2 separate regions of the Homo sapiens genome follow, and region 1 is linked to region 2. The links come from fine-mapping of genetic effects on gene expression. Tissue or cell type: whole blood. Region 2 holds a variant in brackets; the other region holds the start of a gene. All regions are shown on one strand. Distances are between the middles of the regions.

Region 1 (5,000 bases), 110 kb before region 2:
GTGATAGGTGTCTCCATCGTGCCGCCATGTGTGAGCTCCTGGATGTGCATGAAGAGGAGACAGCACAGAATCCAACATGCAGGCGACTGGGACCTTAAAGAGCTCCAGCCCCTTTCAGTACCTGGTGAGATAACTCGGGGCCAGGGCTTCCCACATGCTCCCTGCACTAGGCATGGCCGGGAGGCTCCAGCAGCATTTCCTGGACCCACAGCAGACAACCAGAGGAGAAAAAGGCTGCTGACAGTGCAGATCCTTGTCTTGTGCCACCAGCCCACCTCACAACCTCAAGAAGAAGAAAATGCAAACCAAGCACCCATTCACGGCAACAGATGGGTAGCATCCTGGAGCTGTGCCATGGCAGGTGAGCCACAGGTGCCCCTGACAACTTCTTTTAAAATGGCAAGAACCTAGTATATCCATTATGTAGCATAAGAATATAAGGATCTCTGTACTTCTCCACCCACTATGCTATGGTAGTTTCACCGCAATTGTCCAGCTTTGCCTCTCTTATTACTGAGATGTCTTCTCCATAATGTCCCAGCTTGCAGGTGGACACTCAGCTCGCACTGATGCATCCCAGCCACAGGGTTTCCATCTGCCCTGGTCCCTGTGCATGGCCAAGCCACAGAGTGTAGCTCCACCTCCTAGAGCTCCACATCCTAGGAACTGAGGCAAGGGACACCACAAACTTGGAGAATAGCAGCCCTGCGATTCTCTAGGGAACCACAGAGCTACATCTGTGCCCATCATCTCCTCGTCCTCTCCATTGGGGCTGCTGAGTGGTGTCCTCTAGGTAGCCAGTGCATCCACACCCTTGTACAAAGGGGCGGATTTCAAAGACCCCCCTTTTGAAGAGAGACTGCTGACATCCTATGTCTTACCAAGAAGACTCATGTCCATAAGGGGACAGAGGTTTTCACTTGTCGTATTCACCGCTGTCTCCCCACCACTCACCACAGTGCCTGGCACATAGTAGATAGTCAATAAATCTTTAATAAATTAGTGAATCTACTATTAAGCAGTGTTTCAACAATGGTGAGAGGTTGACTCAAAAGATGTCACAGGTTTCAGAACCATAAAAAAAAAACTTGATGTCACATTATGACATACAAGCAGGGCCTATTAGAAATGGGGGTGCTGCTCTGGGCCTGCCAAGGTCATGTGAGAATTCAGATCAAATATCCTTTCCTGAACAGCATGGAGGCCACATGAGAGTGGACGGGTGCAGGAGACGCTTCACACACAGCAGCTTGGCAGCTAGCCAGAGACTGAAAATAAATCAGAGTTCCACACCCCTGCCCCAGCAAACCCCATTCTCAAAGGCTCTACCTTTCTGTCTAGCATAAACGTTAACATCGGATATGAATACAGAATATTAAATGAAATATCAAATGAGATATCACACAATAAATTAGAAGGGATTGAGAAAGAAAACAATGCCAATAGCCGCTTGGTAAACTGGATGGCAAAAAGGACAGTGAACGTCCCCATGCCACCTCTGGCTTTCCTCAGCTCATCAATAGTCATGGAGTTCTGTTTCATACATTCAATGTCCAGAAGCCTGGCACCAAACCGCAGCGACTGAGACATCCATCACATTCCCGTGACGAATGGACCCTTGCTCCATGACCTCAAGAGCCCAAGTTCATGGTGTCCCTTGCCTCAGTTCCTAGAATGTAAAGCTAAATCACAGGAATGTGGCCATCTGAGAAGCTACCCTGCCCCAAAGATAAGGCAGTGGAGAGACAGCCCAGCAGGAGCCAGCATCTGCGTGCCTTCCCAGCGGCCTTCCTTCCTCCCGGCAGTGCAGAGGAGAAAGCCCTGGCAGGCAGGACGAGTGGGAGGGAAGACAGAGGGGGGCTGCATGCAGAGGTCTTACCCTCCTTCAGGACATCATCCTCCAACAAGTTGGTCACCTAAACTTCTGCTTCCCCCGCTGTAAAACAGGGGTGATGACAGCACCCTCCTCACAAGACTGTAGGGAGGGTAAAAGACCAGTTGCTGTCAAGGGCTTATAAACTGTAAAGTGCTGGGCATGACTGTTGTAAATAATGAGTGTCTTCTCAGCGCCTACTTGCTTGTAGCTACATTCCCTAGCACCATCCTTTATCTGGAGGGGCAACAAGTTACCCTCCCCAGTGTGGTTAAGGCCTCAGCCCTTACCTTGTTAAGGAGACTGACGGTCCTGAGCCTAACCTCTAAGAGGGACGCTCCTGAACCTGTAGAACGTAGCCGGATAGAAAACCTGAAAGCCATTCACACGGGAAGTCACACACCTACCTAGAACCCCCCTCCAGAACAACTGGCAAGTTCCTTCAAACGACCTGAACAACGTTAACTCTTGCTCCACACAAGAAACACACACACGCAGACCTCACCGCCATCCCCTTCTTACACAACACACTCTGACAACCAAGTGCAACTTAGGGAGGACGCTCACGGCGTCCTGCAGAGCGGGGGACTCGAAGGTGTCAAGGCTGTGGTCCGTCTCACCCCTACCTAGTCCCCGGATGCTCCAGCTTCCCCGTACCTGGACGGACGGCCGTGGAGGGTGATGGGATCCCAGCCCCGGGCGGAACCCGGCTCAGCTCAGAGGGGCGAGAGCCCTAGGAGCCGAGCGAGGAGTGCTTCGGTGCGCGGGCGCGCGATTGTCACATTCCTGCCGCTCCCTGGGGCGCGCGGGGCAGGCCGGCGCCCCCACCGCCCGGCCCGGCCGCTCTCCGGCTCCTCCCGGCCGGCGCCGCGCGCTCCGAGTCGGCTCCGGCCGCCGGCCACAAGCTGCGCCCGCCCTCGCGGCCGGGAACTGCCGGGCGCGGCTCTGGCTCTAGCCCCGCCGCTGCGGGGGCGGGGAACGGGCGGAGACGGCTCGGCTGGGCCAGTCCGCGGGCTGCGAGCGAGCTGGCCGGGTGTCCCAACTCTCCACCCGGAGGAGCAGGCGCGGCTGGACAGACCCCTGCGGACACCGCCCTGCCCCGGGTAGCCCGCAGGGGTCCCGCCGGTTCCAAAGCATTGGAGAGCTGCCGGGCGCTCTCGAGTCGCGGCCCGGCTCCTCCAGGGCTGCGGCGGCTCCACTAGAGTTAGTTGAGACAACTCACCTAGCCACTACGACCTGGCTCTACTACCCCCATGGAGCCTGGCTGCGACCCGCGAATTGAGTTGGCGACTCCAGGGCATCAGATCCCGAAGCAAACGCTCGCCAGAGCGACCTCTGGAGCTTGGTGCCTGGCCAGGGGCTCTCTCCGACTGGCTTTGTGCACTAATTTCTTTGTACCTCCGTTTCCTCTTCTGTGAAAAAGGGATCATAAGAGCACTCATCTCATGGAGTGGTTGAAAACAGTTTTTTAAAAAAAATGAGCTAATACATATAAAATAGTGCCAGGCCCAGAGCTGATACTACTCACGCGTTATCTGCTGGTTTCATTGTTGCTGTTACGCGCCCGGATGAAAAAAGCAATTTAAGTGTCATACTATAAAATCTTGATACCACACTTGGGGGCAGACAGGGTTTTTAAATTTTTAAACTTAAAACCCACTTATGCCCACCAGCTCACTTTGCCAATGAGAATTCACACCCAGGGGAATGGAAGGATGGCCAAGGTCATGCAGCGAACGAACGCCTGGCAGGATCACACCTTGGGCTCCTTGCAGGGAGAGGAGGGGAGGGCGCAGTGGTCGAGTCTGCAGCTCCCTCGGGCTTTCCCCCTCCACTTCGCTAGTCTTCAGCAAGTGACTGGCCCCTCCAGCTTGTTTGGAGGTCTTCATGGGCCATCCTCCAAGAAGAGTTTTAATAAATGATGATAGCTTCCTTCCTTCTAGTACACACCGCCCCTTCCTGCATCCCTTTCAGACTGGGCAGGCTCTTGTTCTCGTAACCCACCCCTGGATATGCCTCTTCAGAAACTCAAGAATTGAGGTAACCTGAGCCTCAGCTGCCCCCGGACAAATCCAGGCTGGAGGAAAAGATGAAGGAATGAGCAGCAGAAGCTCATCTGCCCTAAAAGCTGTCTTGCAACCTGGCATGATGACAATTTCTCATTCTTAAACAATCTGTTTCCAGAAGCTTTTATGGTTCCTTTTCCTCGAGAAAGCAGGCTTACATCAGAGGCCAGTGACGTAGCATTAAGAGAATTCCTTAACAATCCCAGCTCTCAATATTCCTTTATACAGCAGAAGGTCTCACAGCCTTGACTCCACTCAGAATCACCGGAGGACATGACACTCCTGTGTTCAGATCAGTCACGTCAGAGTCTCTGGGGCTGAGGCCCAAAAGGCAGTGTTTTTAAAGCTCCCAGGTAATTCCAGTGCAGCTGGGGTTGCAAGCAGTTGTTCCTCTAAGCTCCCACAGTGATGCCATTACTGTGAATCCTCCAACTGAAGGCTGCTTCAACCACGTGTCCAAATGGCAGTTCTGAAAGCTACAGCAGGTGGGCCTGGCTCCATGCTGTGGAACCAGCCCAGAAGCACTATGATGGTGAACATAAATTCGTCCTTCCATTTTCATAATGAAGGTTTTTAAGCAGTTTACAAGTAGAAAGTGAAATTGATTTGTGCAACCATGTAGAAATAAAATCCGTAATTTTTGTCTTTTTTAAGTGTTGTCCCCGTTCAGCCACTCCTACCCAGTGTCCTGCTAGACATGCAGGCCTCTAGACCCAGGTGGGACTCTCAAACACCCGCCCAACACAGAAATGGAATTGGAAGACCTCCTCTTTCTCACCTTATTACCACTGTTCTATCTGGGACCTTCAAGTCACCTTCTCCCTCACTCAGCCATCCTGACCACTTTCACTGACTTTCTCCTTCCCTTTATTTCCTTTCCTTGGATAACTGGTGTGCCTGCCTGTCTCACTCCATCCCCTGGGTAGGAGGCTTCCGTAAGGTGGAGACTGTCATCCCTGTATCCCTATCTGCTCTGGTCTCAGCACCACAAAAATGCTCTGAGCACATCAACATGCTTTAGTGTAAAGCCTACTGCTTACACTGACATTGTATGCTAGTGA
Region 2 (5,158 bases):
TCTCCTTTCCGGTTAAAATCTAATAAGGTGTTCAAAGGCCTCTGCCGGCCCCTCCGTACTTCTCCCTCCCTGAATGCTTAGAAAACAGAAGAAGGAAAGAGGAGATGATAACAGGAAAATAGAAAAGCGAGGGTCAAAAGTTAACTGCTCAAAACCGCCTTCACCTAAACCAGGCATTGGCAAACTTTTCCTGTAAACGACCAAATAGTAAATATTCTAGGTTTTGCCATCTCAACTACTCAACTCTATCTTCAAAGAGCAAAAGTGGCCAAAGACAGTCTGCAAACAAACAGGCAAGGCTGTTTCCTAATACTCTTAATCCACAGAAACAGAGGGCAGGCTGCATTTGGCCCACAGGCTGTGGTTTGTCAACACGTAGTCCAAGTACAACAATTTTTATTTCTGTCTATTCCTCCTATGTTTTTGATTATTAAACAGTTACTATAGTTGAAATAGAAAAATAGGAAAAATGGAAATATAAAATATAGCTAAATAGCTAAGTTAATTTGGACTAAGTGATTATCCCCATTTTTCAGATGAGAAAATTGATGTACTTTGAGATTAAAGGATTTGCCCAAGATCACAGAGGCACCATGTGGCAGTGCTTGAACTTGAACTCACAAAGTCTGCCTTCAAAGTCCAAGTTTTTAAGTTTTCTCCTTGTCTAGATGCAAACAAATGTCAATATTGTAACCATAAAAATTGTACAAAACAATGTATAATATTTCCTTAACACTGTAAACATTTAAGTCTTACAATTTTGATAATTTGGTCATTATAGTATTGATCATTATAATTGATAATTGCTGCATAATTTTTCATCATTGGGGTAATAAGTTTTATTAAATTATTTTATATCTCTAATGATTTTATTTTATTAAATTATTTCCTAAGCTAAATTCCCAGGAGTAGTATCACTGGGCATCTCTCAAACCTTGTTGTTATGTACTGGGGAAGAGAGTGCTGATTTGTGGCAACTGCCAATTTCTGTGGTGTAAAGACTCCACAATGGCCACAGATTTTAAGCTACCAACATGACATCACTGAACAGAGCCAAGAAGAGAGGCACATCCTGGGCTCTTGCAAGAAGATGCAAGCTGGTCCAGCACCCAACTGACTTGGCTCATGTTGCCTTTCTTCTTCCCAGCACCAAATTATAAATTGAATTAAAGTGTGAGAGTGTTTCATAAAAACTTTTAAACACTTGATAGTGTGTGAGTGCACTGGTATCTCAAATTTGCTCTAATTTACATCCCCTGGTTCTTACTGAAAGTGTCATTTTTCCATGAGTTCCTTTATGTGTGTCTCTTCTGCAATCCCCTACTCACATTTTTTCATCTGTAGGGTGATGATGCTACTATAAACTGAATGTTTGTGTCCTCCCAAAATTCATATGTTGAAACCCTAACCTCCAATACAATGGTATTAGGAGTTGTGGCCCTTGGGAGGTGATTAAGTCAGGAGGGCTGCCGTCTATTAGCCAGGAAGTGGGCCCTCACCAGACACCAAATCTGCTCGCACCTTGATCTTGGACTTCTCAACCTCCAAAACTGTGAGAAATAAATTTCTGTTGTTTACAAGCCACCCTAGTTATGGTATTTTGTTGTAGCAGCCCAAAAAGACTAAGACACATGCCTTTTCTATGACTTTGAATAACTCTACACATGATAGTTACTCATTCCTTGAACTTGTCTGACACAATTTTGTCTAAACCTTGCTTTTGTTATTTTGTTGTGCAGAAATTATAATGTAATTAAGCCTACTCACCTTTACTCTTGCAAGTCTTTTGGTAATGAACAAGAGAGAGTTCATCCCATCTTCATTTATTCTGCAAATATTCATTAAATGCCTGCTTTGAGGTACTGGAAATACAGCTGGGACCAAAATAATCTCTCTGACCTCATGGGTCTTCCATTTGGGTGGGAAACATAAATTGAAAATCAACAAGCAAATCTATACTGGAAGGTCTGGTGGTGATAAAAGCTACAATGGTACAAAGCAGGGTGAGGGGACAGAGAGGAAGGAAGGTCCTCTCTGGGGACCTTCCCTCTGGGAAGGTCACATTTGAACAGAGACCTGAAAGGTGGAGTCACCAGCCGTGCTGATTTTCCTGCCATTGGAGTTTTTTTTTTTTTAATTGAACTCATTTATCTATCTGGATTTTATTTTTGGTATATGATATGAAAGAGGCTCTGGGTACATTTTATTCAGTTTGTCTACAATTCTTTTAATGCCCTTCCTTCTATTTTCAGACATGTTGTTATGAAGTTGGGTCTAATTCTCAGTTCACTAATACATTCCAATGTGTGTATTTTTAATTGCTATTTTTTGGATAGCCCTTTCCAAAAAAGTTCACCAATTCTTGCTGATTCTTCTGCTTTAGCACTAAATTATTCTTTTCAGTCTCAAAATGAACAACCAGCTTCCTGAAAGGCAAACTATGTCTTAACCATCACTGTATGTACAACATCTCCCATAGAGTCTAGTCAAAATAGACTCATAATATGTTTTTGTTGAATGAATGTCAAAACTCATGTAGATGTTTTCCACTCTCATGCAGGCCTAAGAGCACCTCATTCTGTTAAATAGGTCACAAGTAGCAGACAGCTACTCACACCCACTCACAGGCACATCTACTGTTGTCACTGATTTTTAGGGAAAAAAAAAACAGAATGTAAGACTTTAGTCCTTTACTACAAAGCCACTATAAATGTGGCACCTTTGGTAGACAACTGAGGCAAAGAACAGAGTCCCTCAAAAAGACACAGCCACTTCCATAAGAGAAGACGTA[C/T]GGAGTTTGTGTTTGAATTATTTCATTCCATTTATTTCACTTGGGATAGGATTGAAAGTCTTGATGATGAGGCCATAGCACAGTCAGACCATCTGCTTTTCCAGTTCTGTGTTTGCACCGTCTGTGCATCCATATTCCCCCCAAAACCAAGAAGGCCAGTGAAAGTGGGGCCAGCACAATGCCCCAGGAGAACGTGGAGGAGGCTGTGGGAAGAACAGAGTCACATCAGGAGCTGAACAGTCTCTCACTGTACAAGAGGACAGGGCAATGCAGGTGTACAAGATAAGAAAGAAATTGGAGTTTGTTTTTCTTGATAAATGTGCATTGATTTTCAGAAAGCACATCCCTCACACCAACATGGAGGATATTTGAGAGTGATGTCTGTGGCATTAGAGAAACGAGCGTGATAGGGCAAAATCTGTTAGAAACATCGTAGGGTAAGTGGGCAAGTGCTGAGGGTTTAACTTTGTTCCAACAGTGGGACACTGTGCGTTTAAGATGCTGTCTGTTTATGTCACAGTTGGCCAACTGTGACAGAGCCAGGAACAATCTGCCCTTTTCTAATGAGCATGGGTGTCATGAGGATCAAAGGAAGTAGCAAAGGAAAATAAATTTTGAATAATGGAGCTGCAGGGGCCAACACGATTGCTTGGGTCCAGCTATTTTATGTTCTGCTCCTTGGCGTCTCTGTGTTATGGAAATACAGGAAGAGACTCTGAATAAAAAGTTAAAAAGCAAATGTGAGAACAGAGTGTTATCAGACACATTGTTGATGAGACTAGAATCCTGCATTTTTAAGCTATTATCTATCACAGTCTGTTTAGTCATCCAGGAATCGACATGACCTCAGCCTGTTGCTCCAGAGGATTCTCACATTTTAAAACCCCACAAAGATTAGAAATAAGTTCAGCTGTAATATTCTGGGCAGCTGTTTGAATACACCTCTCAGTCCTGGTGAAAGACTTACAGCCTGTGTTCCCTGGATCAGTCACGGCCAGCCACATGCAGGGACAAGGCTCATGTTATGGAAAATTTTAAAGGTTCCCAGCATCAGGGCCAGACAAACCACAGGTTCCTTGGGCTCACTAATCTGACCCCGAGAGGGAACATTCTGATTTTTGTGGGTAAATGTGTACAACCACCATCTCTCCCAGCCTGCTCATCTGGAAATGATCTGAAACGCCACCCTTCACATGTGTGCCCTCATTCTCAAACTTCACTGTGAAAGGAGCTTTTTGTGTCACAGGCTGCAGCCTCTCCCTAGGAATATTTGACAGGGTGGATCTGGAGTAAGTCCTGAGATCTGTGTTTGTGACCAGTGGCTCAGGTGAGTGTGAGGCTGGTGGTGCACAGCGCACAGTTGGAGGAAAGTTGGGTGCCATTCCCTGTCCTGAGGCTGGAACACATCATTGGCTTTCCAGTTTACACTGTGTTTGTGGCTGCCTCCCCAGCAAAACATGGAGACCTGGAGCAATTTGTATTTATGTTATTGCTGTAAGATTGTCCACGAGCCATCACTGAGATGCTGGGAATCACTTTGGCTTGCCTGCCATTAGCTACAGGCTGTCAACAGAGACTACATTCAAGGCAGCTCTCCCTCCTGCTCAACAATTAAACATTGATATGAAATCAATTTAATCAAAAATGATAATGTGGGTTTTCCTCTTCTTCTTTTTAAATGTCCTTAAATGAACACTGGGTTGATTTGGCTGTAGCCTTGTACCTATTTCCGGTCATATAATGACTTTGACCCTAAAGCTGCCCTGAACCCTGGGTAGCTCCCAATCCCCAGCTCTTAGAGGATGAAGTTTCTCATCTTCAGGATAAAGAACAATCCACCCTCTTCTAGAGGCCATGCGAAGACAGCTGATTAGTGACCCAAGGCAGAGCCACATGCAGACAGAGTATTTCGAAGTTTACTGTAGAACCATTTCATCCATTTTCCAAAAATCAGCTTGCTATTTAAATTTTTCATTTGAGTATAATCTCCCAAAGTCCAGCCTCCACCCTACCAAAACTCTTTAAAAATGGGAGGTTTCTTTTCAGCTCTCCACTAGCAGACAATGCAAGGGAATTTCTATGGAATCATTTGGAGAACAAGTAGATTTGTCTAGTATCCATGGAACATTCAACATGTTATATTCTCCTATAGTGCTCCCCAAAATACATACATACCTTCCTTGACTGTGGTGCGTAGTGTCTGAAAACTCAGGGTATTATGGACAACACATTTAAAATCCATGTGCAAATCCTCTCTTGTGACAGGATCAAAAATCAATGGCACTTCAATGTAGTTCTCATTATTTTCTGAATATTCCCTGAGTTAAAAAAACATTCACTTAATTATGATTGTATCGAATGCAAGCT

What was found. PIP is the estimated chance that this variant, and not a neighbour inherited with it, causes the effect.
Region 1: it holds the start of IL1R1, and the variant in region 2 is fine-mapped to the expression of IL1R1 in whole blood (TOPMed, PIP above 0.99).

What each region holds. Positions count from the first base shown.
Region 1 is chr2:102,140,551-102,145,550 of GRCh38, reverse strand. It overlaps IL1R1 (interleukin 1 receptor type 1), which reads right to left and starts at 2,805. Exons shown (of 12, transcript NM_000877.4): 1 at 2,531-2,805. RefSeq lists enhancers at 1,588-1,882, 1,648-1,942.
Region 2 is chr2:102,026,062-102,031,219 of GRCh38, reverse strand. It overlaps IL1R2 (interleukin 1 receptor type 2), which reads right to left. Exons shown (of 9, transcript NM_004633.4): 8 at 4,967-5,109; 9 at 2,676-2,994. The coding sequence ends at 2,828. Among named protein-coding and RNA genes, the nearest start is that of IL1R2, 37 kb to the right of the region's middle. The variant C/T (reference allele first, on the strand shown) is at 2,792.